4 linked regions of the Homo sapiens genome follow. The protein of the gene in region 2 interacts with the protein of the main gene of each other region in a pairwise test. Each region holds a gene or a part of one and is shown on either strand. Other genes may lie near its edges.

Evidence for each region.
Region 1: the proteins of TMEM9 (region 2) and PGAP2 interact in binary tests that used the Homo sapiens proteins (3 or more experiments, as listed by UniProt).
Region 3: the proteins of TMEM9 (region 2) and CLDN10 interact in binary tests that used the Homo sapiens proteins (3 or more experiments, as listed by UniProt).
Region 4: the proteins of TMEM9 (region 2) and SLC30A8 interact in binary tests that used the Homo sapiens proteins (3 or more experiments, as listed by UniProt).

The regions. Positions count from the first base shown.
Region 1 is NC_000011.10:3,804,020-3,811,576, reverse strand, and holds the start of PGAP2 (acyltransferase PGAP2), read right to left. Parts: upstream 3,018-7,557; 5' UTR 2,926-3,017; intron 413-2,925; exon of another isoform or gene 328-412; coding exon of another isoform or gene 318-327; coding exon 153-317; exon of another isoform or gene 21-152; intron 1-20.
Region 2 is NC_000001.11:201,151,472-201,159,141, reverse strand, and holds the start of TMEM9 (proton-transporting V-type ATPase complex assembly regulator TMEM9 isoform a precursor), read left to right. Parts: upstream 1-4,667; 5' UTR 4,668-5,218; coding exon 5,219-5,284; coding exon of another isoform or gene 5,285-5,359; intron 5,360-7,289; coding exon 7,290-7,381; intron 7,382-7,670. UniProt on the Homo sapiens protein: Transmembrane protein that binds to and facilitates the assembly of lysosomal proton-transporting V-type ATPase (v-ATPase), resulting in enhanced lysosomal acidification and trafficking.
Region 3 is NC_000013.11:95,555,712-95,562,734, forward strand, and holds part of CLDN10 (claudin-10), read left to right. Parts: exon of another isoform or gene 1-213; intron 214-1,787; exon of another isoform or gene 1,788-1,867; coding exon of another isoform or gene 1,868-1,913; intron 1,914-4,420; coding exon 4,421-4,582; intron 4,583-4,670; coding exon 4,671-4,752; intron 4,753-7,023. UniProt on the Homo sapiens protein: Forms paracellular channels: polymerizes in tight junction strands with cation- and anion-selective channels through the strands, conveying epithelial permeability in a process known as paracellular tight junction permeability.
Region 4 is NC_000008.11:117,130,862-117,137,996, forward strand, and holds the start of SLC30A8 (proton-coupled zinc antiporter SLC30A8), read left to right. Parts: upstream 1-4,133; 5' UTR 4,134-4,466; coding exon 4,467-4,537; intron 4,538-7,135. UniProt on the Homo sapiens protein: Proton-coupled zinc ion antiporter mediating the entry of zinc into the lumen of pancreatic beta cell secretory granules, thereby regulating insulin secretion.

The sequences.
Region 1 (7,557 bases), on a different chromosome or scaffold from region 2:
CTTGAGATTTCAATTTGCAGGCATCCCCCCAGCAGCCCCGTATGTTTGATGGGCCCCAGTGGAGAGCTGGCTAATCTTGTTAAAAGATATTCAAGATCTAAAGAAGATCCAGATCGGCCTGAATATGAGGTATCAGTGTCCCCATGCCCTACCCCACAGTGTGTGGCCGTTGTCTCCTTGAAGTGGAAGAGCAGGGACCAGAGGATGCAGAAGAGGAAGGCGACAAGTGGACAGCAGACCGTGACCAGGGCCACCATGGTGAAGCGGAGCCGTACCAGGGTCCCATCCCGATCCAGTGGTAGTGGGACCTGGTACATCTTGTCAGACCTGGGGATGGAGTGGCATGCTGTCAGGGCCCCAGGCAGCCAGGCTGGCACTCAGTGATAAAGTCAGCCCTTGTGCTCAGTCCTAAAATTAGCTGTGTGCTGTGGGGTGGGGAGTCTGAGGAGGAAGGCACCTAAACTTGGATAGCTCTTGCCCTGGATGAGGAAGACTGACTCAGAATCCCAAGACAACATTCCACCTCAATTTCAGAGGGAAGACAATGAACCAAATCTGTGCTAGGATAAAGCTTGAATGGACTGGGAGAGCTTCTCCTCACTCCTCTCTGCCTAGCTTGACAGGCCTAGGACTAGAGAAGCTGCTTTAAATAAGTGTCTCTCTTTATTTCAAGAACCAACCCTAAAACCTACCAGTGGATGGCATGGCCCATCTCCTCCCCCAGGCCTTTGAGCCTCGGCCCAGCCTCCAGGCTTCAAGGCCTCTCATCAGCTCTCATTTGCTTCCCCACTGGCCCAGGGCCCTCCTGCACCTTCAGTCCCTTCCCAGGCTCTGTGTGCCTGCACCGCAGTCCACAGTGGCAGGGATTCCATGGAAGCTGACAGAACCCCAAGCCCCCTGCTTGTCCCAGCCTGCTCCCTCACGTGCCCCCAGGGTGAAAGGCTTTGCAGAATCAGGCCTGGTGCTAGCCTGGGATTGCTGTTTGCTGGAGAGAGCTGCTTGGTCAGCTTCTGGAGGCTTCCCAGTGCCCAGGGGGCTGTCCACATCACCCTCCTGTGAACAGATGAGGGTTCCTGGGGGCTGTGATTTCCCCCTTAGATAAGGGTAGCTAAGGTCAGGAACTATAACAAATAAGTGTATACCAACAATCCTAGCCCAGCTCCGCACAGTATACAGAAGGGAAAGTTGGAGCAGGAATCTGCTCAGGATCACATAACAAAGAGATACATGTGGGACCCACGAAGAGTTACACACTGCAACTCTGGCCTTCCTTGACCCCTTCCTCTCTGTGTCTGAACTTGAGAAAGGTCAGGTTAGGACTGGAGTGAGAGAGGCAGAAGAGGCACCTGTTCACAGGAGGAAGAAAAGGAAAAACCAAAATCTACATAGATGAGGCAGTTAGCCCTATTCCCATTGTAAAGATAGAGAAACCAAGACACTCAGAGAGAGAGAAGGGCTGGCTCTTCCTCAAAGCCCTGTGCTGAGCTGAAGGGAAAGCCATCCCTGGAACGTTGGCTTGTTGTTGCCAAGCTAGGGCTGGCTCCAGACACATAAAGAATATACCCTTCTGGGCTCAAAGACCTTGTCAAATCAAGTCCCAACTCTTCCTGACCCCACCCACAAGACTCTCCCTTTAGTCCCACCCTCAAAAAGAACCCTGATCTCAGTTAGGTTGCCATCCTGGCATTCCAGAACAAGCCAGGTGGCTACGCCTCCACATTCTCACCCATTTTCCCCCAGCTGCCAGACCTGATCAGGCAGCCTGCTCCAATTGCTCAAGTTCCTCTCTCCCTTTTAGGAGCATCAGGGATCCCAGGGAGCTGGAAGTGGCTCTGGTGACCCTCCCAGAAAAAAAACACATTCCCTGGATCATCCCTAAATGGACTCTAAGTCCCTTAGGGCCCTAGATGGGGAACATTTTCCTCACCCAGCCCAAACCTAGACTCTGCAGTTGCAGTAGCACTAGTCTTCCCTCCCAGTATCCCTCCCTGAAGGCTGCAGCTCTAGATCCCTGAGGAACCACTAGGATTCCCAAATTGAAGACTAGATCTTCAGGGAATGAAGAGGCACTGCCCAAATCAGGAGTTGATGAGGAGGTTCAAGGGATAATCCATTCCAATTCTTGGAGGTATGCCTGGCCTCCCATTTAGCTGTGTGACCTTTGGCAAGCCACTTAAGCACTCTAGATCTGTTTCCACAGTTCTGCAACATGGGAATCACATGGTTTAGATTACCTCTAAGGTCCTTCCAACTTGGTCATTCTACTCCACACCTCAGGGTGGAGCTGAAGGGCAATTGTTCAGCCTGCAGATAGTTCTACATTCCTCACAGGTACTACTTAGCTGAAAATTGCTTTCTTTGGAGCTACCTCAGCTCCAAAGTCCCTAGAGATCTCCTCAGCCTCGAGTCTGAACCCACATTTACTGAGTGCCTACGGAATACTAGGCCCCCTGCTCTGTACTTGATATACATTGTCTCTTTTAATCTCACCATAATTCTATGAGGTAGGTGCTACAGCCTGTATATTTCCATTTTACAGATGAGGAAACTGAGGCTCAGGGAGGTTCAAAACACTTACTCAAGGCCAAGGCTAATAAATGGCACAGCTGCCATTCAAAACTACTCTATGGGGTTCCAACCCCGGGGCCCCATCCTCCCCACCTAGGACTCCTGACCAGGAGGCCCCGCGGAATAAAGGGAGAGCTCAACCCCTGCACACCCGGCCCCACGCTGGGGAGGGAGAAGAAGGGGGCCAGCTCGGCAAGTCCAGAGAGCAGCAGTTCCTGGGAAACAGAGTGTGTGCGATAGGACGGCAGGTACCAGGACTCCCACAGCGTGGGGCCCGGCCCTGCAGAGGCCAGACCGCGCGGCCAAGCTCCCGAGTGGGGCTGCCCGGCAGCCCAGCACATCCATGCCCATACTCACCCACGCGGTGGTGGCGAGAGTGCCGGCGGAACCCGGGGGCCCAGGTGGCCCGGGGTCGGGGGCTGGCTCTGCGGGCTGGTCAGAGCGCGAACGGCGGGGGCGGGGCCGGCGCTCTCGGGGCGGAACTTAGAGAGGAAACTGCGCCCAGATCCTCCGCTGGCTCCTCCCCGCTTCTGGAGACCCCGACCCCTGGCTCTCCTCCTCAATCTGGCGTGTCCTCAAACCATGCTTTACAGCCCGGGTCTGCCCCCACTAATTTCGGCTGCGTGAGGGCAGCCGGAAGAGCTCTGGATACCTGAGTTTGAGCATGTTGGATAAGCCACCTTGTCGCCTTACCTCTCAGCTGCGTTCCATCTACCTGTTGAAAGAACACAAAATTAATTCAACAGGGGCCGGATTTCTTTCTCATCCGCCCGTCTCTCCTGCCTCGCACCTCCATTCTAACCGAACTATCCAGCCTCGCCCTTCTGAAACATTAAGCCAGTTTCCTCCCAGCCCTGGCGCCCCTCCCCCAAACTTTGCTCGTCAGGGCGGTTGGGGACATTTCAGCAATGGGAAGAGCACCTTTGCAGGCAGTGAGACCCGGTGAGGCACATCCCAGAAACTCTGGCCTAGAGCTGTTCCCGCCTTTGTTCAGGAGAGGGCGCCCTGTCCTACGTAGCGCAGAAAGGATTTCCAGCCACCAGCCTTGGGTCTCCCCACAATGAGAGGATTGATCCCCCAAAACCAGCTGCCAGAGTTCCCTCCCTACCCTGACCATGACTGACCCATGAAAGAACTTGAGGGGGACCCCTGGCTCCCTTTGCAAAGACCATCCCAGCCCAACAGGGAAGGAGGGTGAAGGGACCAAGAATTCCTCCTGCAAGCACACTGGTGGGTAGTCAGAGCATCTGCAGCGGGTGGAGGACCTCTAAGTTAGCCATACCTAACATCGCACTTTTCCACTTAAATCCTCACAGCAATAACACATTCTGAACACCCAGTATATCCCAGGCACTCTTACTTCTTATCTCATTTATTTAATCCTCATAAAAACCCTGTGAGGGCCAGGCGCGGTAGCTCACGCCTGTAATCCCAGCACTTTAGGAGGCCGAGGCGGGCGGATCACCTGAGGTCAGGAGTTTGACACCAGCCTGGCCAACATGGCGAAACCCCGTCTCTACTAAAAATACAAAAATTAGCCGGGCACGGTGGCGGGCGCCCGTAATCCCAGCTACTTGGGAGGCTGAGGCAGGAGAATCGCTTGAACCCGGGAGGCAGAGGTTGCAGTGAGCTGAGATCGTACCACTGCACTCAAGCATGGGCGACAAGAGCGAAACTCCATTAAAAAAAAAAAAAAAAACCTGTGAAAATAGATACGATCTCGGCTCACTGCAACCTCCGCTTCCAGGGTTCAAGCGATTCTCCTGCCTCAGCCTCCCGAGTAGCTGGAATTAACAGGCGCCCGCTACTGCGCCCAGCTAATTTTTGTAGTTTTTAGTAGAGGCGAGGTTTTGCCATTTTGGCCAGGCTGGTGTCAAACTCCTGACCTCGTGATCTGCCCCCGCCTTGGCTTCCCAAAGAGCTGGGATTACAGGTGTAAGCCACCGCGCCTGGCCTTTTTTTTTTCTTTCTTTCTCTCTTTTTTTTTGGAGACAGAGTCTCACTCTGTCACCCAGGCTAGAGTGCAGTGCCACGATCTCGGCTCACTGCAACCTCCACCTCCCGGGTTCAAGCAATTCTCCTATCTCAGCCTCCCGGGTAGCTGGGAATACAGGCGGCACCACCATGCCCGGCTAATTTTTGTACTTTTAGTAGAGATGGGGTTTCGCCATATTGGTCAGGCTGGTCTCGAATTCCTGACCTCAGGTGATCCACCTGCCTTGGCCTCCCAAAGTGCTGGGATTACAGGCATGAGCCTCCGCCAGTAGATACTATTTAATATCCTCATTTTACAATGGAAAACAGGGAAACCAAGTTACCTACTTACACAGCTAATACATGCCAGAACCAGGACTCAAGTCTGGTACCTGAGATAATTCACATAATCCACTATATGCTGTTAATGCCACTTAGCATTTGTTGATTAATTTGCCAGAGCTCTTTTTCATGTGTTCACTTTTGTTCATTCACCCAGTCTAGGCCCTCTCTTTGACAGGCCTCATGTGGAGCAATGGTGGAGGACCCAGAGATACCTCAGACGCACTCTGAGGGGCTCCGAAGTCTGGAGAAGGTGCGCACTCAGAGTGTCTTGTTCTAAAAACTACTTTTCTTGATTTTGAGTTCTCCCCTATCCTGTTCTTTAAGGTCCCAGGACAAATGGACTAGCAAAACTTTACAAAAAGAACTACCTCTCTCCAAATTTGGCAACTAGATTCAGGTTTTCTGCCTTGGGGCTTCATGTCATCCTCTTTGTCTAGCTCCAACCAGGGGTGTCTGCTCCTGGCTATTGTTCCCTATCTTGACACCTTGTCTGTTCTCTTGGCCCTAAGTACCATTCCCTGAGGCTGGGTCCCCTCTCCCTGCCTCTAGACTACCCCCAATGCCCAAACCTTGAGGTGCTCTAATTTAGATTAATTCTTTAATTCTCTGGTGATTTGGGAAATATGGGCAATTCTCCATATAGCCCTGAGCCTCTGTTTCCTCGTCTATAAAATGGTTTTATTTATTTATTTAAAACAAGGTCTCGCGGGGGCGTGGTGGCTCACATCTGTAATCCCAGCACTTTGGGAGGCCAAGGTGGGCGGATCACAAGGTCAAGAGATCGAGACAATCCTAGCCAACATGGTGAAACCCTGTCTCTACTAAAAATACAAAAATTAGCTAGGCGTGATGGCGCGCACCTGTAGTCCCAGCTACTTGGGAGGCTGAGGCAGGAGAATCACCTGAACCTGGGAGGCAGAGGTTGCAGTGAGCCGAGATCGCGCCACTGCACTCCAGCCTGAAGACAGAGCAAGACCGTGTCTCAAAAAAAAAAGGTCTCACTGTCTTGCCCAGGCTGGTCTTGAACTCCTAGGCTCAAGCGATCCTCCTTCCTTGGCCTCCCAAAGTGCTGGGATTACAGGCATGAGCCACCGTGCCCAGCCTGTAAAATTGATTTAGGAATATCCACACTGGGTGTGGTGGCTTACACCTGTAATCCCAGCACTTTGGGAGGCCAAGGCAGGAGGATCACTTGAGCCCAGGAGTTCAAGACCAGCCTAGGCAACATGGCAACAGCATCTGTACCAAAAAATACAGAAAACTAGCTGGGTGTGGTGGCACACACTTGTATTCCCAGCTACTCAGGAGGCTGAGGTGGGAGGATTGCTTGAACCCTGGAGGCAGAGGTTGCAGTCAACTGAGATCATACCACTCCACAACAGCCTGAGTGACAGAGCAAGACCCAGTCTCAAAAAAAAAAAAAAAAAAAAGAATATCCACATCATAGGGTTGTTGTATTAGAGGTAATGTAGCAGTGTGCCAGCCATGTGGGAGGTACTCAGTACATGATGGTCATTATGATTAGACATGTCAGCCACAGTGTGAACTCGTCCTGAACTTTTTTTGTATTGTCTGACCTTGGCTGTCACCGACCCTTTCTGAAATCTCTTTATTTCACTATCAGTTTGAAAGACCTCGCCTACCTTGATTTATGTGAGGGAAGATAAAAGAAATAAAAAGAGTTCTTGGGCCGGGTGCGGTGGCTCACGCCTGTAATCCCAGCACTTTGGAAGGCTGATGTGAGCAGATCACCTGAGGTCACGAGTTCGAGACCAGTCTGGCCAACGTGACAAAACCACATCTCTACTAAAAATACAAAAATTAGCCAGGCCTGGTGGCGGGCGCCTGTAATCCCAGCTACTTGGGAGGCTAAAGCAGGAGAATTGCTTGAACCCAGGAGGCGGAGGTTGCAGTGAGCCAACATTGCGCCACTGCACTCCAGCCTGGGTGAGAGAGCGAGACTCCACCTCAAAAAAATAAATAAATACAAATTAAAAATAAAAATACAAAATACAAAAATAAAAAGAAAATATTTGTTGGGTTGATTTAATGGAACTGGGTTTTGAAGAATGGGCAGTATTTAGACAGGTAAGCAGAGATTGAGGAATTGCTAGAAAGGGGACACAGTGAGCATGGCTGGGGTAGGTATAGAGGCAGGGACATAGACTGCTAAAGACATCCAGCTTTAGACCAAGCTCTGCCACTGCCTCCTGGGAAGCCTCAGGAAAATCAGTGTCCTTCCTGGGTTGAGGAGGAGTTATTCTTGTTCTTCTCAAAGATCTTTTTCATGACCAAGACATCCTTCCTGGATGGCTTTAAACCACCCACCCCCAGCTCACTCATCTTGCTCTAGCCTCACTCTGACTCAGATAGCAATTAAATCTTCCCCTGTTCATCTGCTTGCTTCCCTGTTCATCTAGCTTGGAATGTTCTCTCTTCCTGCCTCCATCTCAGGAAACTCTATCCTTCCGTAAAGGTATTTATGAGCATGACACTTTGGTAAGTTAAGAATGCATGTGGTAATTTCTAGGGAGATCACTAAAATAATACTAATAGGAAAAGAGAATTTAACTTTCAAACTAGTATAGTGGGAAAAATGGGCTGGGCATGGTGGCTCATGCCTGTAATCCCAGCACTTTGGTAGGCTGAGGCAGGCGGATCGCCTGAGGT
Region 2 (7,670 bases):
TGTTCTCTGTTTAGGTTGGATGATCTTTTAGTGTGTCTAAGACATGGTTGCTAATGCAAAAATTAGGAAGTCAATCATCTCATAGGAGCTTGAGGTTATGAGACACTGGACAGATAAGCTTCAGTGGGGATTAGAGGAAAAGCAGGGGCATATAGTTGATGCCAGGGAGAGTAGACACCATTTGGGAGTGATGACAGCACTCATCCCCTATCCAGGAGCACCAACGGTAGGGACAGGGAGTGAGGAAGAACCCAGACCCACAGCTGTGGCACGGATGCCAAGACCTCGCCTCATAAAGTCAAACTGATTTTAGGGTTGTTGGATAAAAGCAGGTATGAACTAGAGGGTATGGGTTTTGGCCTGAGTTCTAGAGCTCCAAACTTGGAGGCAGGATGAAGGCTAAGTCCTGAGAGGAAGCAGTGGAAGGCTCCAGAGCTTCCTTAGGCCTCCTCTGCTGGGGAGAGTGCACTGCTGATGTTACCTGGTCTCCACCCTCTCACTGAGCCCCGAGCCAGGGGCTCCCGGCTCCCTCCTGGCTCACATTCTGACTCTGATGTCACTGAGCTCCCTGCCTTCCTTTCCCATTCGCTTGTCCTGGGATCAAGACAAACTGAACTGTTGACTCTTTCTCTACATGTCTCTCCCTGAACTTCCCCAGTCCCATCTCTTTGCTCTCCCTACACTGCCCCTGCCCCCGCCCCCACCCCCCACCAGAATGCCCTCCTCACCATCACCCTGCTCTTGAATTGTGCCTCAAATTTTGCCCACCCTTCCTGGCAGTATTTGTTTCCCATGGCTGCTGTCACAAATTACCATAAACCTGGTGGCTTCAAACAACACGAATGTATTATCTGACAGCTCTGTAGGCCATAAGTCTGACGGAGGTGTTCTCTTGAACTAAAATCAGGGTGTCTACAGGGCTGCATTCCTTCTAGAAGCTCTAGGGAAGAATGCATTGGCTGGCCTTGACCAGCTTCTGCAGCACCCACAGTCCTTGCCTGGTGGCCCCCTGCCTGCATCTTTGAAGCCAGCAGCATAGCATCTCTCTGACCCTACTTCCATGTCCATCTCCTTCTCTAACCACAGCCAGAAAAGGTTCCTCTGTTAAGGAGCCATCTAATTAGATTGGGCCCACCTGAATAATCCAAGCCACTCTCCCCAACCAAGGGCCTTAATTTATATTTGCAAAGTGCCTTTTACTGTGTAAGACAGTATTCACAAGTTCCAGGGATTAGGATGTGGACATTTGGGGGTGCGACATTGTTCTGCCCACCACTCTGGCCCAGCCCAAGTAGCCCTCACTGCCCTCAAAGCCCCCTCTCCACCATTCTGGGCTCCCCTGGCCCTTGGTCTAGGTTTCCCAAGTGCCTCTGCAGCCTTCCCCCAGCACAGCTCTTACCACCCTGAATTGTCATTGCTTGTTGATTTGTGGTTTTCTTGCAATAAACTTCAAGTTCTGTGGGAACAGGGACAGGGTTTGTCTTGTTTACTGAGATATCCCCAGCACCTAGCACAGTGCTCAAAAAATTTTTGAAGGGAAAAAGCATTTCTGATACGGGAGATAGAAATTATTTAGGCAGATAGCAAGGACAAAAAAGTCCTTGGCAGAACTTCCCTTCTAATAAGAAGCAGCCCTAGAAATCATTTCTTTTCTAACACAGAGCAGCCTCAAAGATTGGGCTGCAAACATATATAAGGAAGCTGGAAGCTTGCACGGAGGAATGCTGGCAGCTGCACTCATAGAAAAGGGCTACCGGGGGGCCAGGCATGTTCACCATGGGACTCCACCTTCCCTTTTTTGTTAGCACATGTACAGTAAGAAAGAACTGGGCAACATGGAGAAGCTCAGGCAGAGAAACCACCTGCATAATAAAGATTGGGCTGGGAGCTGCCAGAGATTTGTGCCCTATGCAGATGGCACACCTGGTGCTAACTTTTTTTGAGATGCCCTGTATAGATGAGATACTGCCTCCCCACTAGCTCATCTATAAAACCCCCTGCATTTCACCTTAAATTGGCAACTCATTTTTCCAGGACCCCTCTCTGTAGCAGAGAGCTATTGTCTTTCTTTCACCTATTAAATTTCCACTCTTAACCTCACTCTTTGTGTGTCTACCTCCTTGATCTTCATGGCCAGGAGACAACAAACCTCAAGTGTCACCACAGACAACAAGGCTGCTTCACTTCTACAACACATCACTTTCTATGTTACATTCTGACCATGTGATTGGTCTGCTATTAGGTTGTGCATTACTTGAAAGCAGAGTTGCATGTGATTTGTCTGTTGTATCCCTGGGGTACCTAGCATCTGTGAGCCCTGGAGTTTGGCTCACAGATAGTGCTTGGCACATGTTTATGGAATTAAATTTAATGAATAGGTTCAGACTCACTTCACTGGCATGGCTCATAAACACAGGGCACATGGAGGATGTATGGGAATGAGGTGCCCTGGGTCAGGTAGGACTATTTGGGAAAAGCTTCTGCAAGGCAAATGCTTGGGCAAAGATTTGAATAAGATGAAAGATAACGACTGGCAGTGCTGGGGGTGATAATGTCCTATGGAGGACTGCAATGAGCAAAGTCAGATATAGGGACAGCCGGTGGGGGGAGTAACCAGTGATGAGATGGGGTGGGGAAGTGCAGAAATGGTAACCACTTGGCTTGGTTGCCAAGTGGAGGGGTCTGAATTGGATGCAACAGGGTGCTTGCTACCAGGGATTGAGCAATGAGCGATGTGCTGAAAACAGAATTGGAGGAAGACAGGATGGACCTAGGAGCACACAGGAAGGGAGTGCATTTCAGGGAGCAGAATGCTAGCCGAGGAAAGATACAGGCAGGGTGATGATAGCTACCTCCTGGGGACACCTGGATAGACAAGATGTGGAAATATGAGAGAGGAGTCAAAGATAGTTTGATGCCACAATCTAGGACCTGCAGAAATGCAGAATGACAGTGGAAGGCCTCCCTTCTGTTTGATGAGGAAGATGGTGAGCTCAGCATTGGGTATCTTTAGTGTTGTGTGTCAGAGGGTCATCCATTGGAGGTGACAGACTCAGCCCCATGCTTTTGTCCCCATGAAAGTCCCACCTTCATATGGAACGTATATGGGGGGAAGAAGTGTCTTTTTCCAGTACTTGAACTATCCCTTCTGCCCCCACGAGGTAGGCATTCTGTCTCTGCCTGAGCTTGCTCACCAAAGCAGCCATTCTGACCTCCACAATGAGCTAACATTGCCATTTATAGAGCCTCCCTCTTTGTGTCAGATGCTGTTCTAGGTGCTTTGCATATGTAAACTCATTATATCCCTACAACCACCTTGAAAATTTGGTAATATTAATCCCATTTTATGGGCATGGAAACCGAGACTTCTGAAAGGATTCCAAAGACTTCCAAAGATCCAAAGGCGGTGTCCTAAAGGAAACCACCCAAATTCACACAACTAGGAAGGGAGGAACCAGGATTCCTGCCCTGGTCACTCTAGCTCCAAAGCCCCTGACCTTTGCATCACACTGCAGGCCTCCTGCCCCTGCCCCCTGCCAACTAGATTTAATTTAATTCTATAGAATTCAGTTTAGCAAACACTTCCTGAGCACCTACCAAACACAGGTCACTCTGCCAGGTGGCAAGGATATAAAGAGGAATAAGACATAAGCATAGGAGAGAGGAACACAAACTCAGTGGCCTCCAGATAAGTGCCCACCTCAGTTCACAGGGCCTGCGAGGGGCTTGATTCCACCTGGACCCAGCCCCTATGCTAATCCAGCCACCAACCTCAAGTTTGGGCCATATTGATACCCCTCCCACCCACCCCTAAGGAATCCCAACATATCAAAGCTGAAGGGGATCTTAGAATCCAACCGAATCATTTTACAGATAAGGGAAGTAAGGGAAGCTGAGGCCCAGAGAAGGGAGGTATCTTTTCCAGGCTAACACAGCTGCTTAGGGGGAGCGCCAGGGCCAAAGCCCCGGTGTCCTCACTCCGGGTCTGGTGCCCTGAATTCATATGACTCCCCTTTCCTTCACAGCTGGCAAGAAGTTCACATCTGCCACATAGCAGCCAGGGACCCTCACCCCTGCATCCTGGCCATGCACACTTTGCCCCATTTTGCCAGGCCCAGCACCAGCATGGGGTAGGGGGATCAGGCTGAGGACGCTGTTGTGCACACTCTTCACAGGCCCAGCCCACACCACCCATCGCCAACCCTAGATTTCTCCTTCTCAGAGGTGTGTGTAGGGGTAGAGACGTTGCCGCGCAGAAAGTCTTCTGCAGCAAAGACGTGGATCCCTAAATAACATTTCCAGATTTTGAATGAGGACAAAGCCCTTCAATCTCGTATCGTTTTTGTTGACGTTACTAGCTTACAGTGTATAAAGCGCTTTCTTTCTAAAACAGCAAGATGAAACAAGCTGAGTTTTATAATACAAGGAAGGGAGAAGCACCGCAGTGGGAGTTCTCAGGCCACACAAAGGCAAGACCCTTCCCCAGGAGTTTGGAAGGCTGACGTTCCCTTTTCTGGTTTGGTCGGGTTTGAGAAATGCCCGCCTCTCCCTTGCGCAAGAGTCTCCCCGCCCAGGTGAAGGCGGGTCTTGTTGCCATGGCGACAGCGCGGTCGGGTTAAGGGGCTGCTCTGGCAACCAATAGAAGCTAGGAGAGGGCGGGGACAACTGGGTCTTTTGCGGCTGCAGCGGGCTTGTAGGTTCGTGGACGCGGCATTGGGGGAGGGGACGGGGGTCGCGGGGCTATTGGGGGTCCCAGTCCGGCTTAAGACCTCTGGGCGTGGTGGGCACCGGCCTTCGCCGTCGGAGCAGGGGTCCCAGACTCGCACCCAAAAGTTCCCGTCGGGCCCGAGCGGGGAGGAGCTGCGGGGCGGGCAGAGGCGGAGATGGCGGAGGGCGGTGGGACGTGATGCGCGGGTCAGAGCCGGGCCTTGAGAAGGAACTGGAGGCCCCTGGCAGCGGTGTCCCCTCGAGGACCCCTCTGCCGGGCTCACCAGGTGGCTGGCGGAGAGCCGGAGAGTTGGGCGGGAGGGAAGCAGGGTTTGGCGACCAGGTTTAGCAGGCCTTGGAATCCTGGAGCCCAGCCCCCAACCCCATTCCCACTTGGCCGGATGGTTAAGGGCCTAGCGTGCTGGCTGCGGTGTGGCCACCTTCCCCTTCTCCGACTCCGTATCTCTTTTTCCAGGTGTCCGGCTTTGCTGGCCCAGCAAGCCTGATAAGCATGAAGCTCTTATCTTTGGTGGCTGTGGTCGGGTGTTTGCTGGTGCCCCCAGCTGAAGCCAACAAGGTGAGGGAGGTGAGCCTGCAGCACCTGGTCACGACCACAGTGCACGGCCACCCTGTCTACAGGGCTGACTCAGAGGTAGCCAGCTGCTCCTTAAGCCTGCCTCTCACTCACCTATGGGCCATACTTCTTTTAGTGGTCTTCCTTCAGGTTCAAGGCTGCTGGCCTCCCTAAGGATAGTGCGGGTGAGGAGTGAGGAAGGGTGGGGCACAGAGCACTGGCTCACTCTGATCAGACAGATCAGTGGTGGACTTCCAGCAAGGAAGTTTGGAGAAGTTATCTAAGTTCTCCATACCTTCCTTTGCTTTGGACCAAAGTATGTTTTGTTTCAGATATTTTTGGATTTGGGAGTATTTGCACATAAAAAATGAGCTATCTTGGGGAGGGGACCTAAGTCTAAACCTGAAGTTCGTTTATGTTTCATATATGCTGTATATACATAGCCCGAAGGTAATTTTATACAATATTTTCAATAATTGTGTGCATGAAACAAAGTTTATCTACACTGAACCATCAGAAAGCAAAGGCGTCACTATCTCAGGCACCCATGTGGATAGTCTGGTTGGTTGGCATCACCACCATTCCTGACAATGAATTTATATGCTACCGATAAATATTTTCTTACGTTACACATAAGTTCTTAACGGTAAAAAAATATGATGTACTATTAACACAGTGAAAATAAATGATGTGTTCAGGGTAACTAAGCACAGTAGCATCACCAGAATACCTGTATCAGCTGTTAGACACAGCAACATAAGGCTTTCTGTCTCCTGCTGTGATGCTGTGTTTTGATTAAAGGTTACTGTGCACAGTATTTTTTTAGGTGAGAAGTAGTATCTGAAGCAGTAGAGGGACCAGAAAGTGGGTCCTCTAGAGATGAGGAGGCATTCTGCCAGATGGCTTTTAAAAATGTTTTTGCCAGTCACCTGATTCATTAACAAGCTTTTGTCTTAGAAGTCTCTTTGATTTTATAGACTGACACGATTTCTTGTTCTGTTATGAATGCGCTCTGCTATAGTCTTTCAAGAAGCCCGTCACTCATTGTTACCATGTCTGTAGGTGCTTTTCTGCAATGTTAACATCATCTTTGTGGTCATGTCTGTGCTTAACAAGTTTTAGATTGGGAGCATTTCGAATTTTTGTTTTAGGGGTGCTAGTACTACCACCTGTAGTAGCAGTTGTATCTATTACTCTGCTTAGGGAGAATCAAATTACATGACAATGTAAAAATGCCCTGTAAGTGTAAAGTCCTATACAGTTTGAAGTTTCCATTATTAAGGGTGACCCACCTAAGTTCTGGGACTCCTGAGATAACTTCCATTCTTTATTGCTACATTCCTGTGGAGCTGTTTGGGTAGATCTATGGAACTAAAGATCATCCAGACTTTGAAGTAAGGTTAAGGCTGAGAGTTTGTTTCCATTCTCTCCTCAGAAATCCTAATTAGTAAAGACATTTATGGTGATATCTCTTACTCATTCCAGAAGGGAAGAACTTTCAAAGGGGTTGCTTGAGTATTCCCACAGAAATGATCCACTTTTTCTTATTCACCCTCGCCCTTTATGTTTCCCCAATCCTACCTAAGAAGTTGGAGAAGGAATGTGGGGAAGAGGGTGGCTGCCAAGTCCACTGGACAGAGGTGCACACACAAGTGTGGGGTCTGGGGTAGAGGACACACACACACACACACACACACACCCATTTCCCCTCATCCCTCTCCCCGCATTCCTCTAAGTACCTGCTTTGGGACTGGCAGGCCTAGACAACTTTCTGTGAGTCTCATTTGCCATCTGGACATTTTTCTATCTTTAGGACCCGGTGCTGCAGCTTGCTTCCTACAGTGGCAGTCCTTGCTGGATTTGAACTTGGGGATGGAGAAAGCTCAAGAGCATAGATATGGTTCACCTAACAGGATGGGGAACAGAAAGTTGACAACCTTGCTAGAGCCTGAACCCCCTGAACCCCAGGCAGGGTCTCTGCATACTTGACATGTGCTTTCTTTTCCAGAGTTCTGAAGATATCCGGTGCAAATGCATCTGTCCACCTTATAGAAACATCAGTGGGCACATTTACAACCAGAATGTATCCCAGAAGGACTGGTAAGGCATTACACGCAGGCCCCTGGCTGCTATACCCAGTTGAAGTTATGGGTGTTTACTAGAGTTCTTGGACCCTGGAGGATAAGCATGCTCTCCCATTCCTATGGAGAGCCTTTCAAAGGAGTAATTATTCATGTCACAGAACCAATTTCATAGTTGTCAACTGTCTGTGGAAACAGGATCCAGGTGTCTGAATTCCAGCTGAGTGGTCCCTGGCTAGAGGAGTGGATTTTGTTGTTTTGCTTTGAATATTGGTCTTTAGTGATGCATACAGAATAGTAGTAGAGAA
Region 3 (7,023 bases), on a different chromosome or scaffold from region 2:
ATCTTGGAGGGTTAAATCATGCAACTGTGTTTTCCTGTGGAGGGGAGTTGATTCCCCCACCTGCAAGTGGAAGCTTCCAGGGTAGGGGCCCTCTGTTTGTCCTCTACCTTGCATTCCCAGGTCAGCCACATCTGGTGGGTGCTGGTCCTGACATTGCCTTTGGAGAAAGTGGCCATGGTGGCCTGAGTGGAACAGCCCTCCCCTTAAACCCAGGTATGAGCTCTAGATTGGGAAGAGAATCCAGGAAGGGAGAGAGAAGGCTCGTGACTCTTGCCTATCTTGTGTTAGGTAGAAGAACTCTTGGAGTCAAACGACGAGGTCATTATTCTGAATTTCTTTTCTTTTTTTTTTTGAGACAAAGTTTCACTCTGTCCCCCAGGACAGAGTGCCATGGCATGATCTCTGCTCACTGCAACTTCCACCTCCCGGGTTCAAGCAATTCTCCTGCCTCAGCCTCCTGAGTAGCTGGGATTACAGGCACCCACTGCCACACCTGGCTGATTTTTGTATTTTTAGTAGAGACAGGGTTTCACCATGTTGGCCAGGCTGGTCTTGAACTCCTGACCTCAAGTGATCTGCCCGCCTCTGCCTCTCAAAGTGCTGGGATTACAGGCATGAGCCATGCGCCCAGCCCTAAATTTCTTATATAAAGAAATCTCTGATTCCCCTCCCCTAGGGGTATCATTGCCACTTGTTTTCCTTATAAGAAAAATGAGGCCTAGCAAAGCTATATGTCTAGATTTAACGTTATGCCATATTAAGAACCCAGCTCTAATTTCTGCTTAGAATCCATTGTAGTATTATAATATGACGGGATGCTTTGATGACTTTCTTACTGCTCAGCAGACATCCATATTATTCATCCTGTGAAGGAGGTGCTGCCATCCCTGTTTTACAGATGAGAGAACTGAGCCTCAAAGAGATTAGGTCCTATAACCAAGTACATACCTTGGGTAAATAGAAGCACCAGAGGTGAAACTCAGAGTTCCTGCCCTCCCCATACCACTGTTCTCTCAAAGGATTTGCAGAAGTACACAAAGCTACCAGGAAAAGAAAAGCACATTCTTTTTTCCCCCCTAAATCCATCAACTAGCACAGGTGCTATTAGCGAATTGTCTCCACCAAGTGGATGTTTTCGTTTTTTGCTGATTTGCAATTGAAAATAAAGTACACATAATTTGGAAAACACTTAACTTTTAAGGAACACCTTGAAGCTTTCCTCCAACAGAGTTCATTAATTTAAAGTCACTGTATTTTACTATTTGAAAATTTCACAGCTGAATGAGCTTGTGATTTCTGTTTATTGTTAACCCATACTCCTTTCAAAGTACCACTTGAACTTCAGCTGAGTATGATTTTCAGCCAGCTTGTTTTTAGTGTATGCCATCTATTTTTGCTAGTGGGAATGCTTGCCATTTCTCCCAGGAGAACTAACTATAAATTATACTTCAGAGAACTTCTAAATAAATATGTTCATGCCTCAGCACCTTAATGTGTTAATTAGCTATTAACAGTGTCAGTAAATTAGACCTGTCAAAAATAATGGCCTCCTTGACTAGGTTTTTACTAACACTTCTCCTGGTGGTGTTACTTGTAAGTTTTGCCCTCAGGAACTGTTAGAAAGCAAGGCTGTAGAGGTCTGCTTTGCAAAAGATGAACTCTGAAAGGGTTTGTTGGAATCATCTTGGCTCCAATCTGTGGGTGTTGTAAGGACTGGTAGCCTTAGAACACTGAGAATTTACAAATCTCAGGCTTACGAGCAACTCCATTACATTTATGGCTGGCAGGGGAGTTTATCCCCTGCTCTTTGCTCTCCATTTCAGAAAATCTGGCCAATGATCGTCCTTGTAAATTGCCTTCTTTGTGCATGCGCAAAATTAACAAGTTATGGCTGCTGTTCATGCTGGAGAAAGGTACCTCATTTTCCAAATCCGGGTTCTGGTTGGCACAAAAGAAGGACCTGACCAGATCAGAATCTGCCCTGCCCACTTCTCCTCTCATGCTTGTGTCAAGAGACCAAAGTGGGTCCTGCTGCCAATACCAGGGCTGGGACGGGGCATCTCAGAGTGAGAAACTCGGGAAAAATGTTATCAGTGGTGATTACATAAAGTTCAAAGACTACTGTTATTTTCCCTGTTGTATTAAGAATCGAATGGGTTGGCCTGGGATTCTACCCACTGTTTATCATCTGGGAAATGCATTCCGCGTTCTAAATGACCAGATTGTAGAATTTAACCTTTGGTAAATTCCCGACAACTTGCACTTTCTGTTAACAAAGCATGGAAGTAACTAAAGGCAATGCAAATTAGGGTACATGCTAATGTTTTCTGGGAGTATATATAAATGGATGAGTCCCCCATTTTTTTGTTTATTTAATGACTGCAGTCAGAGTCAGCTATAAAACCTCAAAACCATAGATTAAAATGAATTTCACAAAAAGAGCGAAACCACACTGTCCGAGTAGCCCTGGTGGCAAGTGATGAACCAGTTTGGGTTATCCTCACAGGCTCTCTTCAAACTTGCAAGGGACTGACAGGCTTCCCCTCTCTGTCTTGCCTCTACCTGCTGTCTGGGCTCTGGCTGGGGAGCTCGAGGACTGAAGTTTAAAATACAGCTGGTTCAGCATTTGGCAGCGGAGACCCAGATAGCCCTGCAGCACAATGATTGCTATGAAAGAAGCCTTCATTATCCTGTTTTGCTAAAAATAAGTTTGTTTTGCTGTTTTTGATAGCCACGGTGTTAGTGAAATTGTTTTCTGTATGGAAATATTTCACACTACACAATGGAAGGTCACTGTCCTTGCAGTCTGCATTTGTGGGAGTCTAAAGTGTTTACAATTAAGTAGAGCAGCTCCTGTTTGCTCTTCAAAAATGGGTCCAAGGAATAGGATTAAAACTTCAATTTCATTCTTTTCCAAAGAAACACAGACTGGGGCCAGGTGCAGTGGCTCATGCCTTTAAGCCCAGCATTTTGGGAGGCCAAGGCAAGAGGATCGCTTGAGGCCAGGAATTCGAGACTAATCTGGGCATTACAGCGAGACACTGTCTCTATAAAAATTTAAAAATTAGCCATAGGTGGGGGCAAGCGCCTATGGTTTCAGCTACTCAGAAGGCTAAGGCAGGAGGATCTCTTGAACCCAGGAATTTGAGGCTGCAGTGAGCTATGATTATGCCACTTCCCTCCAGCCTGGGTGGCAAAAGTGAGATCCTGTGTTAAAAAAAGAAAAGAAAAAAAGAAACTGAACTGGAGGCCACTAGTATGTACTCCCTAAATTCATGATTATCATGGTCTCGGAATTATTATTTATCATGGCTCTGCTTGAACACCAATAATAAATGACTTATCATATATTGACACATAAGAGGTTTTTTCCAGTTAAAAAGTTTAATTCCAAACGTAAACCTGATGTAGGTATATATGTTTATTTGCTTAGCAGATACTTACTTACACCCGGTATGTGCTACTATCACTATTTTAGATCGAAATATGGCATTGTTTCAGGCTGAAATGAAAATGGCTTATGTGGTAAAAGCTTATTAGTTTAAACCCTGTTAATGTAAAAACCTGGACAAAAGCCACACTGAAGTTTACCGTGTACCCTGGCTGTGCAAATAAAAATACATGACTAAGAACATGAATAGCACAGGAAGGATGAACAAACGAACTGACAGAACATACTCGTTAGGGTACTTTAAAGGCATTCATTTATAAAAGAACAGTTGACTTAATCACTATAAATTACTCTTCTACAAAATAGTGCTTTTTAAAACCCAGTTTTATTATATACACCCTGAAAACAATAGTACTTCACTAAAGTATTCCCTTAGACCCCCCATGGTTCATGATGATATTCCAGTTAGTCTGCTATTAATAAGCGTCCACTAATATTGGAAGGTTTGACCCTTTGGATCTCTTTCTGCCACCCAGTTATAAATCTTATCATTTGATAATGTCAAAACCATTAAAACACCCTTTTAAAGTCCAATGAGCGGAGGAGCTACAGAGTTGTGATGGTGGCAGATGATGTTTTTTCACAGTGAAAGGCACCTTTCACTGTGGAATTTCACTATATGGAATTCGTAGTCTGATTTGGGATGGAATCCATGTCTGCCACTTTCTAACTCACCTCTGGTAAGTCACATAACCTTTGTGTGCCTCAGTTTCCTCACTGGTGAATATGGAAATAACACTCAGATCTATCCTGAGGATTCCCCATAAACCGCACTTCACAGTGTGTGACCTAGAATAGGCACTCCCTGTAGATTAACTTGCTTTCCTTTCTTGCTTGTCTTGCCACATGTTTTCACCATCACAGTTATCTTTTTGGAAAACAAACATCCAGAATGACAACGTAAAATGAGGATTTCTCCCTGGACAGCCACATGCTTTATGTAACGTAAATGACCTACTCTAATTGCAGGTTATATACAGGCATGTAGAGGACTTATGATCGCTGCTGTCAGCCTGGGCTTCTTTGGTTCCATATTTGCGCTCTTTGGAATGAAGTGTACCAAAGTCGGAGGCTCCGATAAAGCCAAAGCTAAAATTGCTTGTTTGGCTGGGATTGTATTCATACTGTCAGGTAAATAGTAACTTTCTTCCAAACAAGGTACTTGATGATGTTAATGAAATCACACTAACCATAGTGCTTTCCCTCTAATATTTGTTAGGGCTGTGCTCAATGACTGGATGTTCCCTATATGCAAACAAAATCACAACGGAATTCTTTGATCCTCTCTTTGTTGAGCAAAAGTAAGTACTCTTCTCAGTCTGTTTCCAGCTCACAGGAAGTGTATATAAATTAATATTCTCAACCAAGAGACATGAATTTCCTATATGACTTTTGAAAGTAAGACATACTGATAAATGGTAACTGATGACATCATTCAAGATTAAATGTGTCATATGCCACATACGCAAAATATGCATTTAATTAGTTTGCTAGTGTTGCAGTGTCTTGTCTCGAAACAGTTCAAGGCATCAAATTTAGAACTATAAACTTCATCGTTTGCTGTACATCATGAAACTGAGGTCAAGTAGAGGAAACGTGAAAGGTGTCAGACGGAGAGGAAAGAATGATGCGGTGTGCGAATAGAAAATTAAAACCTTGCCTTGATTGTTGCCCACTCAAAATGATATTTGCCAGATGCTAGTTTCTGGGTCTTTTAAATTTGCTGTATTAACTACTGTCTTAACAAGCTCCTCCTAATAAACCTTTATAAAGAAACTGTATACGATGCAAGGTTTTTGAAAAATGCTGTAGGAGCACGGCACCTTTACCCAAATGTGGCTGGTCAGTCTTGCAGATGAATGCTTTGGAATTAACAGATCAGTTTGCTTGTTGGTGTTGTTTTTAAACTATGGGCTGTTGCTTTTTATAGTTTCCCTAGGCTTATTTCTTTGGATTGGGAAAACCCCAGGGATACCAAATCAGAATTAATATATTAAATATTTTGTCTTACCTAAGAATGTATCTACATCCCTCTTTAGGAAGCCTCACGTACGTGTGTGTGTATTGCTATCAATGAGGCTGGTAATTTTATTTTAGACTTCAGGTCAAATTTTATAGAATTTTTAAGAAGTATATTACTGAAATAGCTGGTCAGCTGGGCTTTACTTTTTTTCTGGTGGTTTTAGGAATCTTCAGGAAATTGATTTTCTAGTTCTGGCTTAAGTGTACCTTACGCATAAACAGTAAATGCTTATATCATGAAATAAAATGAAAATAATAGCTAGCGCATGTTGAGTCCCCACCAGGAGCCAAGCAGAGCACTGCAAATATTATTTTATTGTGTTATTTTATTTTATTCTTACAAACAACCTTATAAAGTAGGTCCTCTTGGTACTCTTTTTTTAAATTGAGGAAAGAGGCCAAGTGATGTGTTCAAGGGAACTTGGACCAAACTAGTAGGCTGATTGAACTGGGATTCAAACCAGGCAGTTGAACTTCAGAACACTGGCTCTTAAAAAGCATGATTTCTAATATTCCACTATTTTGTAATTTTTGTGACAATATGCTACATGTACTGTTCATCAAGAGGTTTCTTTCGTCCTTTTTTTTTTTTTTTTTAAGAGTTAGGGCCTCTTTCTGTCACTCAGGCTGGAGTGTGGTGGTGTGATCTTAGTTGACTGCAGCCTTGCGCTTCTGCACTCAAGTGATCCTCCCACCTCAGCCCCCCGAGTAGCTGGGACATATATGTGCCACCACAACCAGATAATTTTTTTTTTTTTTTTGAGATGGAGTTTTCGCTCTTGTTGCCCAAGCTGGAGTGCAGTGGTGCGATCTCGACTCACTGCAACCTCCATCTCCCAGGGTCAAGTGATTCTCTTGCCTCAGCCTCCTTAGTAGCTGGGATTACAGGCACGCACCACCATGCCCAGCTAATTTTTTTGTATTTTTAGTAGGGACAGGGCTTCACCATTTTGGCCAGGCTGGTCTCGAACTCCTGACCTCAGGTGATCCACCCGCCTCAGCCTCCCGAAGTGCTGGGATTACAGGTGTGAGCCACTGCGCCCGGCCCCGGATAATTTTTACATTTTTTAACGGAGACAGGTCTTGCTATGTTGCCCAGAGTTGTCTCCAGCTCCTGATCTTCAATGATCCTCCTCCCTCAGCCTCCCAAAGCACTGGGATTACAGGCATAAGCCACCATGCCCAGCCTTTTCTATACATTTAAAAATAGTTTTTATTCAGAAATGTTATTAAATGGGAAAGAAAAACAAATTTTATTAAATGGGTTTTAGACCTCAATATAACTTTTTTATCCCCTGCCTATAATACAAAAACATGTCCTAATTTATTAATTTTCTCCTACTTATCTTTCAAATGAGATTTGCACAGATGTACATGGCAGGAAACATTGAAATAAAAACCAAGGCTGTATTTCTGAAGCTTAGAAATATTTTAATGATATTTAAAAGAAATATTGTATTTAAATGATACATTTTTATTTTAGGGTTTGATATCATAAATATGCAGCAAACCTGTACTTCTCATGGTTTATTTTATTAAACACATTTCTC
Region 4 (7,135 bases), on a different chromosome or scaffold from region 2:
AAATATACACTTCATAAACACTTCAAGCAGCTAGCCCCAATATTTCTCCCCCCAAAAATAATGCTAGTTCATTTTTCTGTCATTTATTTGCATCTATGAGACTTAATAAAATATTTCTTTTATTCTTTTAGTATCAATATTTTATCAAGTCTTTCTATTCTTAACAAATACAAATTGCATTTTCACCAGAACATTCCTATAGCTCAATCGCTTGAAAAATAGAAATAGTAAAAAAAATTACATGGTCCTAATTTATCAAGAAGGAAATAAACATCATATTGCTTTCGGTCCATTTTCAAGCAGTGTATAAAATATTGGAAATGGTTTGTGTTTTATACATATTTACTTTAGATTAAAATAAAATTTTCATAATGCTCTCTAAAATACAATCCAATTAAATTTCTAATGTCTTTGTTTTCACATTTCTAGATGAAACCTCTGAAATACTCACACTGTAGTAATAACCATAAAGCTACCTTGCTAAGAAAATACTACTCAACTTAGAAATAATAAGATCTTTATAGTTATGTGAGAATGCATGAGTCCAGAATCTTTAGTGGGTGATTACACTGGTTGAGTTTGAATTGCCTCCCCTGTTGTGGAAGACAGCTCCATAGTGAAGATCATTCTGAATGGCACTCTACTGGTGAGGGGGTAGAATGAGGCAGACATCAATCTAATTTGAGAAAGTAGAGTCCAGAGGGTTTGAGAGATCTACCCAAAGTCATAGAGCCGATAGCTGAAGTCCCCAGATCTTCCTTTTTCAATAACCTTTATTTCCTTGATGGATGCTTCATTCACAGGTAATTCTTAGCCTTCTGCTAAAGCTGGAGCCAATTTCTCAGCAATAGCCAAAACATTTTACTTAGACATGGCCCAGTGTATAGAAACTCACAGTTACATAAAACTGGTTATATATCAGAGACTATGCTAAGAACTTTTATACATATTATCTGTTTTCCTCTTCACAAGAACTCTGTAAGATGGATTCGATTAATACTCCCATTTTACAGGTGAGAAACGGAAAAACACAGTGGTCAGGCAACTTGTTCAAGGTCACATATCTAAGAAAGTGGTCAAACTGGAAACTAAAATTGTCTACCTAACTAACTTGAAAACCCATATATTAAACCACTTCACCACACTACCTCTCCACACCAACAGGAAAAAGCAAAACATGATGAAAGTCCACATTTGTTATTTAAAAACAGGCACATTTCTATGTCTGATTTAAAAAGATGGTTGCATGCACACATTGGCAACATGAAGTATTTCTGAAATACGAGTTTAAATATGGGGAACACAAATTGTAAGTACTTGGTACTTTAGTATCTAGGGATAATGATGGTAGCTTTTTATAAATCCATATGTCCTTTCTACAAGTGAAATATCCAACAATGTTTAAGATACTTGTGAAATTATTTTTGCACAAGTATTAGCTACTGTTTGTAACACCCTATTAAGAAATTGTTGCTGACAACAGCTAGGACTGAAGAGCCAAACCAGTTCTTCAGTGATGTTGGTGATGTTCTTGTGGCTGACAGAATACTTATTTCCACAGGTAGCTGTTATAGATTGTGTGTTTCCCATTCAGTTACTCCAAGCTTGTGAAGGAGAGTGGGCGGAGAAGACAACCTGTAATTCGGGATGGTTTGGAAGCTGGTTGCCTAGGAAACTGAAATGAGCAGCGTAATGCCCACTAAAACCAATGTCTACAGGGGATGGGATTTTCCTTTTTGATCCAAGTTGCTTTCCAAATATATATTCTATGCTGCTTGTGGAGCCCAGTTAGGCCGTTGGCCCTTGGTGGGCAGTTCATGCCAAAGTAGACCAAAGGTTTGTCAGGGAGGATGAGAGATTTTTCATAAATGTTGTGATGACAAAATATTTGAGAGAGGGAATGACGGTGCAGTTAAAATGAACTTGTAAGAGAATAAGGTGATCAGCAGATGCATATTTTACATGATATAATATGCAATTCTTGATCATAACATCTGCATCTAAATTTATGGCAGCAAAACTTTTTAAGCATAATTTTATTTGCTGTAATCTACTGTTCTCTGTTCTTATGCTACTCACACTGGAAGCTTTGCTTTATGGTAATCATCTTCAAGAGTAACTTTTGGGATTCATAAATCTTTGATGAAAATCATAATTAATTTCCTAGTACTTTATAAATATGTACATTTTTATTAGTAAATGTAACATACATATCCACACATATATTTTAGGTATCTATATATGTGTGCATGTATATTTAAGTTGAACCATATAAAATTGCTGATATTAGACCACATAGGACTTATATAGTTTATCTTATAGACAAATAGAAGAGATCATAGGATACATTTTTGACAGGGGGTAGCAGTATTTTTTGTTGTTTTGCTTGGGTCTCTCATTGTCTCTTTTCCCATCTTCACTTTTCCCTGTCCTACATCAACCCCATCCTACTCTCACTTTATTCTTGCCCCATAGGCAATCCACATTAACTACCTGGCATGTATCCTTCACACTCATTATAAATTATATGTCAATTATGTATGTATGTATGTCAATTATAAATAGATCTGTACATCCGTATTTGTACTAGAGGCAAAGTTCGCATGGAGGAATCTCAAACTTCCAGATTGTTTATTTCCTGTTGATATCTATAGCCAAATATTCTCCTTCCTGATTTGAAAATATTGCTTATCTCTTTTTTTTGTACTCACCCTTAATGAATTTCAGGCTGATTTAAAGTAGTTTCCTCATTTTCTGACATTCATTCACTTGAATTCTATTTCTCTTGTCTGTGCTAGAAACTATTCACAAATGATTCAAGCTGTGACATATGGCAGTGTGTCACACAGGTGGATTAGTAATTCTTTTCTGGTTTTCTACTTTCGCCTCCACAGAATAACTGATTACTTTGTAAGGTTAAGAGTAAGAATATACGAGAAAAAATACATTGGTTTTTATTCTGCTAACAGTAGACCCAGGATTTCAATGCCTTCACTTGCAAGGAAAAGGCTCCCCCAGAGCCTCTTAGAGGCTCCAAACTGTGTGAGCAAAGTTAAGGATCAGTAAGAGTGGGGTCATATGAGAAGACCTTAGAATTTATGTTATAGATGAGAGTGTTTGAAATCTTAAGATAATAAGAGGTACAGCTACACCACAGATGTGATAGGAGACCTAATAGTCTCATTCTGAACCAAAGGTGACTTCTCCTGTCACTGCCTATGACAATTGGCATTGAACCCCATCCTCCTTTTAGAGCACAATATTCATTTTATTAGGCCATTGTGAGAGATCTCAGCTCAGCATAATGGGCAACTTCCCGTGACTCTGGGCCACTGGGTTATTCTGGGACTTAACTACTCTGAGTTTTCTCACTAGAAAGTTAGTGTTCACACAAGGAAAAGGCAACAAGAACCTGGTGGTCTGGGGTTTACTCCTGTTCTCCAGTCTGCACAACCCCCTCTTTCTCTACCGTTGTGTACATCTTTATAGGTCTTGAAACCTTTTGCCCACACACAAATGCCTACTGTTTGTCCAGGCTCTTGCCATAAGGCTATAGTTCTTTCTCTTATTTGGGAAGGAAAGTGCTTTGTATGAAGTAAAATGCTGATTCCTAGGAGTTGAGGAGTGTGAGGTCTCCCAGGAGCAACTCAGAGGCTTCCTTCCTCGGAGCTGGAACTGGCATGCCTGATAGGGTTTCCTTGGGTGAATCCTTGATCCTTAGTAGAGGGTACCTTGGCCAGGAAGAACAAAGCTCACTCTGGTTCTTGTATTTTGGAGGGCTGTTATTTACGTAGAAGCAGAGTCTGTCCTTCTCTTGCCAATCAAAAGGATTTCAAAGCTGCTGTACCAAGAACTGTTTTCAGATTACTGGTTTCAGAAACTATTGACCCTTGTCCTCCCTTTCAATAGTGAAATCCCAAAATGGTCCTAGGAGAGACAAGTAAATTCTGACAGCTGCTTAGAGGTCATCTTAGAACTAAATTCCAAAGAAATAATTTTAGGCTGATAAAGAGTCCAGAAAAAGGAGGAGGGAGAGAAAAAGAAAGAATTAGTTTAGTGTAGCGAATGGTAGCTATTTGCAGCTCACCCACGTGTGCTCCGAAGGTCAAAACCCTACATCAGCAATTTGTAGCAAGCTCTTGAGCTCCTCTACCTCTTAGAAAGCACAATTGAATCAGATATCATATGAAAGACATACACACTTCATGTAATGCTACCTGCAAGTCTCCCTAGAAAAGCAGTTTTTGTAGGTGAAAACAATGAAGCCAGGTAATATTGCAAGGAGGCTGTAATTTTAGCAGACCTACCAACAACACTGATGTAGGAAGCTCATTATTTTAATTTCTGGAGCCTTTTAATTTTTTCTTTAGAAAGTGTATAAATAATTGCAGTGCTGCTTTGCTTCCAAAACTGGGCAGTGAGTTCAACAACAACGACAACAACAGCCGCAGCTCATCCTGGCCGTCATGGAGTTTCTTGAAAGAACGTATCTTGTGAATGATAAAGCTGCCAAGATGTATGCTTTCACACTAGAAAGGTAATAGATGTCTGTGTCTGCTTCACAATTTTCTCTGTTGAATATCATCCAATTCCTATACCTTGTTGCTTCTGAATTGTAGGCCTTTACTCTGCAACTTGGGGGCACTCTGGAACATTTTATAAGTTGTTGACTGACATGTATTTTATATTCTGAAAAATGCAATACTTTATATAGTTGATTTGATTCCTTAAATATCCTAAGTGCATAAAGAACACATTTTACTGATGTGTTTTTCATCTGTCATGTTTATTCCAGAAAATAGACCTATATAATCTGTTTACTTTTCCTTTTCTCAATTATTCTCAATTTTAAGATAGATAGTAAATTTTATTATATTATATTTAGAAAAAGTTAAGACTTCAGCTACATGGCAAAATTGTGGTTGTATTGATCTTAAAATGAGCTGTTGTTTTCATGCTTATAAAGTATCATTATTAATATACATACCTATAACAAATATAGCTGATTTTAATGTTCTACAAAGTATTCCATTTCTTTTTAATGTCTCCCACAGTGTCACATGCAATACATTCATTCATTTTTCACTTGGTTAACAATTATTGATTGAACACACCTGTAGTAAGTGCAGAACTTATAATGAGAAAGAAAAAAATGTCTAGTTTCAGATCTTTGTCCTCTTGAAACTTAGTCTAATGTGAAATACATATTAGAACTAGGCAATTACAAAACAGTGTATTTGTGTCATATTGAGGGTGTTCAATAAGAATAACTGGACTTTGGAATCAGAGGAAGCTTTCTCAGAAGTAATAGGCTAAGAGCTAAAAATAAAAAGGAATTAAAGTAGGGTTAGGGATAACCTACATAGAAAATAGTTTTAAGGAAAGTTTCCCAGACTTCGATAATTGCACAGTAAATATACTTTCACATACATAAGAATGTGAGCTTGGTTTGTTTGAGGAGTTGAATCTGAATGGGGTTCAAAAAAGGAACACATTCAGTGAATATAAATGAGCTAATGAAAATCTGAAAAGAATTGATGTTAGAAGAAGAATTTAAGAGAATACTTGCCCATTAATAATACGTGTAATGTTCTTGTTTGTTTCACAAAGCCAAACTAATATTCTAAGGAGTAGTGATACTATGTTTGGGAGCATCAAATATTTTAGTAACAGCAAAGAGATTTTATAAAAAGGATATTTATAACTTGGCTTAAAACAAAGAATCTAGCAATCTCACATTAGAAGAATTATTTTTCTTAGAAAATAATATTAGATATGATGTATTGAGGTTATTAACATAAAAAACAAAGCCTTGTGGTAAGTCAGGCAGAAGTTTTGGACAAAAAATTGTTAACCCTATGGATACTATCAATAGAGCATCTCCACATTACTGAAATAACAATATTTCCCTTCTTATTAACATAGACTATTAGCATTTTGTTGCACAAATAAGCCAACCACTTATAGTTACAAAGTCTCATTCACCCCATAAATAGGTATGGTTTTCAGGACACAGTGTTTATAAGAATTGTCAAACTCATTTGTATTTTCTTGTCAAGGGAAATAAATTAAATCTGGAAGAGATTATTTATCTCGATCCCTCATTTTACCATGTAGGAAACTGAATGCCAGATAGAACAAATGCCTTTCTTGAGGTCAGAATAAATGTGTTTCTTGAGGGCAGATGGCTAATTACAACAGAACTGGGCTGTGGACCCAGGCCCCCTTCTTGTTAATTTAGTGTTCCCCTTCTCCGTCTACATCTCCTGTACCCATACATGCACCATGTGGGCTCCTGAATCCTTAATCTATCTCCTCCTTAGGTCACATGTCCCTGAATTCCCTCACTTACTCACTTCTTCCCCCACCTCTACCAATCTATCTCATTTATTTTGTTCTGTCTCTATTAGTTGTGGATAACTTTATCCCCTGATATTCCTCCTCTTTTCTCCTTCTACCTCTTTTTCTTTCTACTTTCTATTATCAGCTTTCTATTTAAATGGTTACTGGCTGTTAAGAAACTTACTCTGAAGAAAACTTTATTATCTAATTCCACAAATGGAGTGTTCCATTTATCTATGGCTGTGCAACAAACTACCCCAAGATGTAGTGGCTTAAACAACAACTATTTTATTACGATTCTCTGGGTCAGGATTTGGGCAGCATTCCATGTGAATTAGTTGGAATAGAAGGCTGCATTCTGCTGGTATCTGGGCTAGGCTAGAAGGTTTAAGATGGCTTCACTCACATGACTGAGATCTTTGTGTTGGCTTTTGCCTGGGGCGGGGGTCTTAATTCTTCTTCCCATGGCTTCTCTCCCTGTATGATGTCTCACTTTATCTGGTTAGCCTGGAATTCCTTATGTGACAGTCCAGAGTAGCAAGAGAGCAATAGTGGAAGCTGACCATTCTCAGATAGCTTAAGCCCAGAACTGGCACAGTATCATTTTTATCACAATTTATGGGTTAAAGCAAGTCCCAAGTCTCAGATTCCATGGGTGAGGCAATAGATTCTATCTCTTGATTGCATGTGCATATTGGATGACAGGAATTGCTGGAGGTAATCTTTACAGGCATTTTACCACAGGAAGTAGTAATATTGGACCCAGTAGGTGCCATGAACCATATTTTTTTAC